Regions from separate parts of the Homo sapiens genome. Here regions 2 and 3 are each linked to region 1. The links come from fine-mapping of genetic effects on gene expression. A gene starts in region 1. Each other region holds a variant in brackets. All regions are shown on one strand. Distances are between the middles of the regions.

Region 1 (2,759 bases):
ATCTTTAAGGTTGCCAAAACGTAACAGAACTAATGAAGCATTAAAATATAACTCCACATCAAGCCTTGACCAATAAGCTCTGTGAATATCCCTCCTGATTACTAAAACTTGAGCCTCATCACACCAAAATGACAATCTTATGTTGCATTCAAAACCCGGAACTGCTTTATCCATTGGTACTTCGCACTGGCTGACAAAGAGGAAAAGAAGAGAAAAAAGAAAAAAAACCTAAAATCATGAAGCCCCCAAATAAAGAGCAGACTCACACTCGGACACCAACAGCGCTGCAGCTCAAGGGATTAACGGTGGAAGTGAGACCTTTCCGATATTAATAGCGCCCCGGGAAACAGAAGAATTCCCCCAAACCCAGTTGACACACATTCTGCATTCAACACGTAACAGCCATTCTGCATATATCCTTGCATTTCAGGCTCCAATTCTGGTTATCAAAGTGTATTTCTGTACAGGAGTGCCTGGCCAGAGGTTTTCTGTTCTCTTTGTCTTGTGATCTGAGGGGCAGTTTCTGAGCTTAGGTTAGAGCTGTGGTTTCCAGAGAATTGCCCACGATATTTTAGCTCCGGGTTGCAGGCTCCCTGGCTCTCCCCAGCCGGCTCCATATTGCTGGGCAGGTCCCTCCCGCCTCGCCCCACGTTCCAAAAGCTGGATTTCCGGGCGGTTCCAAGACCCCACTAAATATGCCTCCAACAACCTGCCCAAGCTTGGCTGGCAATAAACGCTGAGTTAGGGCCCCAGCGACCAACCGCCCCGAGGCGCACTTCCCCCACCCCGGAAGAGGAGGGCGGCAAACTTCGGAAGGCGGGGGTTAGGGGACGAGCTCCGGGGACCACCGCCGCCTCGCCCGCCCCGGGAAGGGCCCGGGCAGCGACCCTGGCTGCAGCTGGAGGGCCACGGGGGAAGGGAGCGCTCCTTCCCGCAACACGAAGGCAGCGGCCAGGGCGCTCTCCTCCGGTGAGGGGCCCCGGAAAACTGCAGCAAGGCGACAGCGGGGACCCTCCGAAGTGTGCGGTGACGGAGGGTGGGAGGAAGCCCGAGCTCGTCGGCAACTCCGGGGGCAAATGCGACCGGCGGCGTGCAGGACCAGCTCGCAGGAGGACGGGGGAAACGGGAGTCAGGATGGCGGGGATCTCACAGGACGCCGGCCGCGCGCGGGGGTAGTGCTGCCCGGCGGCCAGGAGATGCCGGAGGCGGGGAGGGCCGGTGGCCAGCCCGCTTCCCCCCGGCGGGGCTCTGCAGAAGGAGAAGCCGCTGCCAGTGACAGGAAGAGAGTCGCGGCAGCCGTGCACACATGCACCGCCTCCCCCGCCCGAGCACACACACCCGGGGCTGCTGCTGCCTACCTACCCCGCCCGCCGGCTTCCTTCCTCTGCGGGGCCCGCGCTGCAGCGGTGGCCTCCTGCCCGCTCGGTTCCGACCGGCCTCCAGCCCGGCTGCGACCCGCCGGCCGTGCCCGATCCGTGCTTGCCGTCTCCGACAGCTAGCCTGCCGCCCTCGCCGCTGCCGCTGCTTCCTCCAACTCCGCTCCAGCTGCTGGCGACTCCTCTCCGTGCGCCCGCAGCTCCAGCGCCCGGCGCTAGCCCCGCCTCCGGCCCGGCCCCGCGCGCCCCGCCCCCGAGCCCACACCAACCAGAGCCCGCGGCTCCGCCCCTTTCCGTCCGCACGGCTCGGGCCTCCGAGCCGGCGGCTGGCAGTGGGGGAGCGAGCTCAGGCCTGGCGGACCCTTCCTGCCACCGCCCTCGCCTTCCGCCCCCCAGCCGCGGGGATGCCCCGGGCGGCCGTGCCGCGCGCTGCCTCCGCTGCGGAGTGCTCTGGCTCTACACGTCCCGGGCCCGCCCGGCTGCTGGGCGTCTCCCAGCGCAGAGGCGGAGGGGTTCGGGGAGGTCGAAGACAAGTTCAGACCTCCCTGGAGGCTGGCTGCGTCTCTAATCCGAGTGTCTTTCAGCCAACCCCAGGCTTTTTCGAGCCCCTAGCGCCCCAGCAGAGTGGCTGGGGTGGGGAGGACTCGGATTCCAGAGCTCGCCAAAGCGGAGAGGCCCTGCAATTCCTGGTCTCGCCAGCACTGCCTTCCGAGTGGGCGGAAAACCCGCGGCACCCGCCTGGCGCTCCGGGGGTGAAGGAGGGGTGAAAGGGTGAACCGGAGGGACGGGCGCCCGCAGCCTGCCGCTGGCTAACTCCGGCAGCCTGGCACCGCCGCCTCCGGGAGCCAGGCGGACCCGCGAGAAGGGAAGAGAGTTTTCTGAGGGCGTACGCTGGCTGATGGCTTCTAGTCCTGAGATGACAGAGCAAATGGAGGTCACTCAGGCAGACCACGGGCCCCTCGGCGTTCGCGGAGTCGGGGGCGGGGTTGGCGGGGGGTGGGGTTGGCGCGGGCGGGGGGGGCGGGGAAGCGCAGGTGAATTACATTGTCTCTTAAAGGTGTTAGTTTTGAAATGCATATTCTTCAAGTAATAATTACCTAAGTTGCTCCAGAAAAATTTGATGTTGGTTCAAACCTTCCACTGATGGTAAGATGGAATGCCAGCACCACGTGTGCCACTCTTTCATATTAAAACATGTGAGAATCTGCTTCCTAAAAGCTCTTTCCAGATTCTCCTTTCTGCAGCTTAAAGCCCTGCACCCGCCCACCCTGTTTGCCTAAAGCCCTTTTATAGTTCCCTCCCAGTTTCCTTGCAAGAAAACTCTTAAAAACAAACACACAAAACCTAAGCACTTGGCCTCTGTAAAACGTTGAATTTGGTGGT
Region 2 (2,759 bases), 990 kb after region 1:
TTCAAAGAGAATAAAATACCTAGGAATCCAACTTAGAAGGGATGTGAAGGACCTCTTCAAGGAGAACTACCACTGCTCAATGAAATGAAAGAGGATACAAACAAATGGAAGAACATTCCATGCTTATGGGTAGGAAGAATCAATATTCTGAAAATGGCCATACTGCCCAAGGTAATTTATAGATTCAATGCCATCCCCATCAAGCTACCAATGACTTTCTTCACAGAATTGGAAAAAACTACTTTAAAGTTCATATGGAACCAAAAAAGAGCCCGCATTGCCAAGTCAATCCTAAGCCAAAAGAACAAAGCTGGAGGCATCACGCTACCTGACTTCAAACTATACTACAAGTCTACAGTAACCAAAACAGCATGGTACTGGTACCAAAACAGAGATGTAGACCAACGGAACAGAACAGAGCCCTCAGAAATAATGCCACATATCTACAACTATCTGATCTTTGACAAACCTGACAAAAACAAGCAATGGGGAAAGGATTCCCTATTTAATAAATGGTGCTGGGAAAACTGGCTAGCCATATGTAGAAAGCTGAAACTGGATCCCTTCCTTACACCTTATACAAAAATTAATTCAAGATGGATTAAAGACTTATATGTTAGACCTAAAACCATAAAAACCCTAGAAGAAAACCTAAGCAATACCATTCAGGACACAGGCATGGGCAAGGACTTCATGTCTAAAACACCAAAAGCAATGGCAACAAAAGCCAAAATTGATAAATGGGATCTAATTCAACTAAAGCACTTCTGCGCAGCAAAAGAAACTACCATCAGAGTGAACAGGCAACCTACAGAATGGGAGAAAATTTTTGCAATCTACTCATCTGACAAAGGCCTAATATCCAGAATCTACAATGAACTCAAACAAATTTACAAGAAAAAAACAAACAACCCCATCAACAAGTGGGCGAAGGATATGAACAGACACTTCTCAAAAGAAGACATTTATGCAGCCAAAAGACACATGAAAAAATGCTCATCATCACTGGCCATCAGAGAAATGCAAATCAAAACCACAATGAGATACCATCTCACACCAGTTAGAATGGCAATCATTAAAAAGTCAGGAAACAACAGGTCCTGGAGAGGATGTGGAGAAACAGGAACACTTTTACACTGTTGGTGGGACTGTAAACTAGTTCAACCATTGTGGAAGTCAGTGTGGCAATTCCTCAGGGATCTACAACTAGAAATACCATTTGACCCAGTCATCCCATTACTGGGTATATACCCAAAGGATTATAAATCATGCTGCTATAAAGACACATGCACACGTGTGTTTATTGCGGCACTATTCACAATAGCAAAGACTTGGAACCAACCCAAATGTCCAACAATGATAGACTGGATTAAGAAAATGTGGCACATATACACCATGGAATACTATGCAGCCATAAAAATGATGAGTTCCTGTCTTTTGTAGGGACATGGATGAAGCTGGAAACCATCATCCTCAGCAAACTATTGCAAGAACAAAAAACCAAACACTGCATGTTCTCACTCATAGATGGGAAGTGAACAATGAGAACACATGGACACAGGAAGGGGAATATCACACACCGGGGCCTGTGTGGAGATGGGGGAGGGATA[A/G]CATTAGGAGATATACCTAATGTTAAATGACGAGTGAATGGGTGCAGCACACCAACATGGTATATGTATACATATGTAACAAACCTGCACGTTGTGCACATGTACCCTAAAACTTAAAGTATAATAATAATAATAATAATAATAATCTTGCTTTCCCAGCTACAGTGAGGCACTTCTATCATGCACCATACACTTGTTAGAGAGACTCTGGGAGGAAAGTGTGTCACTCTCCTCCTGGCTTAGACCCTACCTGGAAGCTGTATAAAAACAATGCAGGGCCATGTACCTCCACAATAGCCACATATATGATTAATAAAGCTATCAATCAGAATATAGTGCAATGATTTCTAAACCATGCCTTCTACAGGGAAACTCAACAAAATGGCTAAAAGAAAATCTTTTCATAGCCCTATCTTTCCAAATCTCTCTCTCTCTCTCTCTCACACACACACACACATATATACACACAACTACACCTATCCTGTTGTTTACTTGCCACTCATAGACCATACCTTCAAAACTTAAACTTTGACATCACTAGGTACCAAAAATTCTCAGGGTATCTAACCTCAGACCCACAGAGTAAAAGAGAACTCTGTTTGATTTCTAGTCCCCATTTTCTTTTTTTTTTCCCTTTTTTTTTTTTTTTTTTTTTTTTTTTTTTTTTTTGATACAGAGTCACTCTGTTGCCCAGGCTGGAGTGCAGTGGCACAATCTTGGCTCACTGCAACCTCTGCCTCCTGGATTCAGGTGATTCTCCTGCCTCAGCCTCCCCAGTAGCTGGGACTACAGGTGCATGCCACCACACCTGGCTAATTTTTTATTTTTAGTAGAGACGCGGCTTCACCATGTTGGCCAGGCTGGTCTTGAACTCCTGACCTCAGGTGATCACCCACCTCAGCCTCCCAAAGTGCTGGGATTACAGGCATGAGCCAATGCTCCTAGCCTTATTTCCCATTTTCAAAGTGGACTGCACTAAGGACTTTCTTAGTGCAGGATGAGAAGCCAGCTATTCACAATATGCGGTAATGAAGTGGTTGATCAAATGACAGCATATTGTGCTATGGGATTCAGATGACTTGCGCACCAGAAATGAGGTTTTAGGGGACCTGGTAAATAAATATCAGGTAACCAGAATTCATCAACTAT
Region 3 (2,759 bases), 220 kb after region 1:
GATGGCTGTGAACCAAATGCTAGTGAATAGGTATCTCCCAAGAAGAACAAGAGAGAGGGTTCTCTAGGCAGAGACAGCAGTTTGAGCAAAGCAGGAGAAGTGCAGTAGCCCATCATATTTACATGTGAGCAGCTTGGCACATAAAGTGTAAGCCAGGAGAAGAACAGGTGGAAAAAGGTACGGTAAGAAAGACGGGAGGGCAGAGGGGGCTCCAAAATGCTACTCTAGGGAAAATATATTTTGAATAATCTCCTGTAGATATAAAAAGCTGTTGAAGTTTTCAGAGTAGAAGAGTAATATTATTTGCTTTACATGTTACAAAAAATGATTCTGGAATTATTTAGCAAATTGGAAGAGTTTGCATGGTATTCAAGACTGTGAACCCTGTTGGCTGACAAGTTGGGTTGGAATCCCTGGTTCCTCACTTATAATTAGTTTTGTGAGCTTAGGCAATTTTTTTAACCTTTCTAAACATTAATATCTCTCTCTGTAAAGTGGAGCTATTATAATTATGTGCTTATCTCATAGGGTCGTTGGAAGATTAAATGTGGTAATTCACACAGAGCCTGGCATATAGCAAGCAAAATTAGGGAGTAGAAACCCAGGGATCTAATTGAATTTGGAAGTCTTTAGGACCATCCATCTCCAGCTCAGAAGAGAGCTTACTCTCTTAAATTGCCCCAGAAATCTGAGTGCGAGTCGATACTAATCTAGGTTGGCTGGTGGCTGAATTGTTTCTGGTAAAGGGAGGGAAAGAAAAATATAAAGTAAAACAGAAATAAAAGACACTATCAACTGACAAAGAATTAATGATCTTTCTGTGTGATGGAACAGTATGTACATGAACAAGATTTCAGAATATTTAAAATGCAAAGATACCAACTTGACATAGTGTTGAGTGGAAGTATATTAAGGGAATGAATACAGTTAATCTGACCTCTCTGTGGGAACCATTGCCAAATGAGTCAGTCGTGGACAGTGTGTAATTTATTTTTATAGCTTGCATTCAAGGGAAATATTCAGTGCAAGTCCAAATGTTCCACCTCGAACATCTAAATTCAACACTAGCATATGGCATTCCTACTCATACCCACCTGGAGAGAAGGTGGAGGTAGAAGAAAGGAAATGTTGTCATCGGAGACTTCTGCTCCTGGCACTTCCTCTCTAACCTTTTGTATTCACCCCATTCCAACAGATGTTAACAGGGCTCACAGCTTTCTGGACAATTTATAAGTATTTCCACTACAAACAAAATAGCTCAACTAGTGCAAATGGCATTGGAAATCTTGTTTGAAATATTGGATTTTAAAATCATAGTCAAATTAATTCTAATCGTTCTAGAAGAGATAAATGGATGCCCCTGAACAGAGTAACACAAATCTGTTACTTCTGCACATGACAGGCAAGTCAACCTACTGCCAGAACAGGAACTTCAGGAATGGTCTCAGACTCCTGCTAATACTCATGTATTTCTGCTTGGCAAGTGGTACCTCTTTGACCATGGCCCCAAGATT[A/G]GATGTTTTGCTGACTGCTTTGGGCCGCTATCAGGGTGGACTTCTTTGACGCATTGTGGAAAGACTGTGTTTTGCTTTTCGAAATTAAGTAAAGGAACTGAAGGAAAAGAGAGCATGGATATATGAGTGTGGTTGCATAGGAGGAAAAAACTCCAAACATGGTGTCCACCAACCTGCGATGGGGCAATCTAAGCAGTCCATCTGATGCACAGTATTTCTATCAATTCATATCATTCATTTGAGATTATACACTGAACTGACTGCTTGACCTTGGGCAAGTTACTTCGCCTCTTTAGCTTCAGATTATCATGCCAGGAAAGGGGGTTGGGTCTCTAAAACCTTTCTCAATTTCTAATACTAAGACTTTCTATTATTTGCCACTGCTCACAGATGCTTTAAATCAAGTAAAACTTAACCTTTTTTTTTTAAAAGAAATGTAATGTTCATCAGCTTTGCAAAAAGGAAGCAAGGAATGAAATAACAAGAACAACTTACTGAGATACTGCATTTTAACTTGTTGGGGATGAGTAGGAATTAGCAAAACAAACATGTCCTATGGGAAAATTACAGAGAAAGTGATTTCTTATAGGATAGAAGGGTGGGGGCAGCAATGCCTCTAGGTGAAATCTGGCCCACTGCCTATTTGGTGACTGAAGTTTTATTGGAACACAGCCATGCTCATTCATTTACATTTTGTCTATGAAAACAGAATTGAATGGTTGCAACAGAAGTGGTATGGTCTTCAAAGCCTAAAATATTTATTCTCTGGCTCTTTACAGAAAACGCTTGCCTACCCCTGTGATAGGAAATCAAAGTGGGTTCTTTTAATTAGTATTTGTGTAGCTCCGTTCTCCAAATAAGAGTGTCCTGTTTTGGGAAAAGTTTGGAAGCTCTTTTCTACTTAAGTAATCAGTAGGGACCTGGGTCCTGACCCTACTTTTAAAAGGATGCAGCCACTGTATCTGTACTTCTGCTTTTTTACGACTTCTTCAGTAGCTTTGGGGTTTGAAATGACTCTACCCTACAAATAACTATTTTCTGGGATAATGCCAGGGGTGGCCATTTTAGGTAATAGAGGTTTTGGAGCATAGGAACTGTGTCTTTCTAGAAGGAACTGCCCAGCTCTCTGCTGCTGTGATGTAGAGGGCTAGCCTTATGCAGGGCGTGGCTGAGGGGAGGGCTGGTGTAGCACACAGTGGCGGCTGCCTTGCTCTAGGCCCTTCTCTTTCTTGTACTGTAGAGAAT

Which allele goes with the higher level. Positions count from the first base shown, and alleles are read on the strand shown. Sizes are in standard deviations (SD) of each study's normalised expression. Not every link is listed here.
In carriers of allele G in region 3, the expression in macrophages of the gene that starts at base 1,556 in region 1 tends to be lower than with A alone (moderate effect, 0.54 SD a copy in Nedelec 2016).

The links. PIP is the estimated chance that this variant, and not a neighbour inherited with it, causes the effect.
Region 2: its variant is the best candidate, but not a certain one, in a credible set for the expression of PIK3R1 in whole blood (INTERVAL, PIP 0.60).
Region 3: its variant is the best candidate, but not a certain one, in a credible set for the expression of PIK3R1 in macrophages (Nedelec 2016, PIP 0.87).

What each region holds. Positions count from the first base shown.
Region 1 is chr5:68,214,553-68,217,311 of GRCh38, reverse strand. PIK3R1 (phosphoinositide-3-kinase regulatory subunit 1) reads right to left here and starts at 1,556. Exons shown (of 16, transcript NM_181523.3): 1 at 1,363-1,556. RefSeq lists silencers at 840-1,939, 2,160-2,379.
Region 2 is chr5:67,223,721-67,226,479 of GRCh38, reverse strand. No RefSeq gene overlaps it. Among named protein-coding and RNA genes, the nearest start is that of CD180, 28 kb to the right of the region's middle. The variant A/G (reference allele first, on the strand shown) is at 1,611.
Region 3 is chr5:67,991,315-67,994,073 of GRCh38, reverse strand. No RefSeq gene overlaps it. Among named protein-coding and RNA genes, the nearest start is that of LINC02219, 200 kb to the left of the region's middle. The variant A/G (reference allele first, on the strand shown) is at 1,515.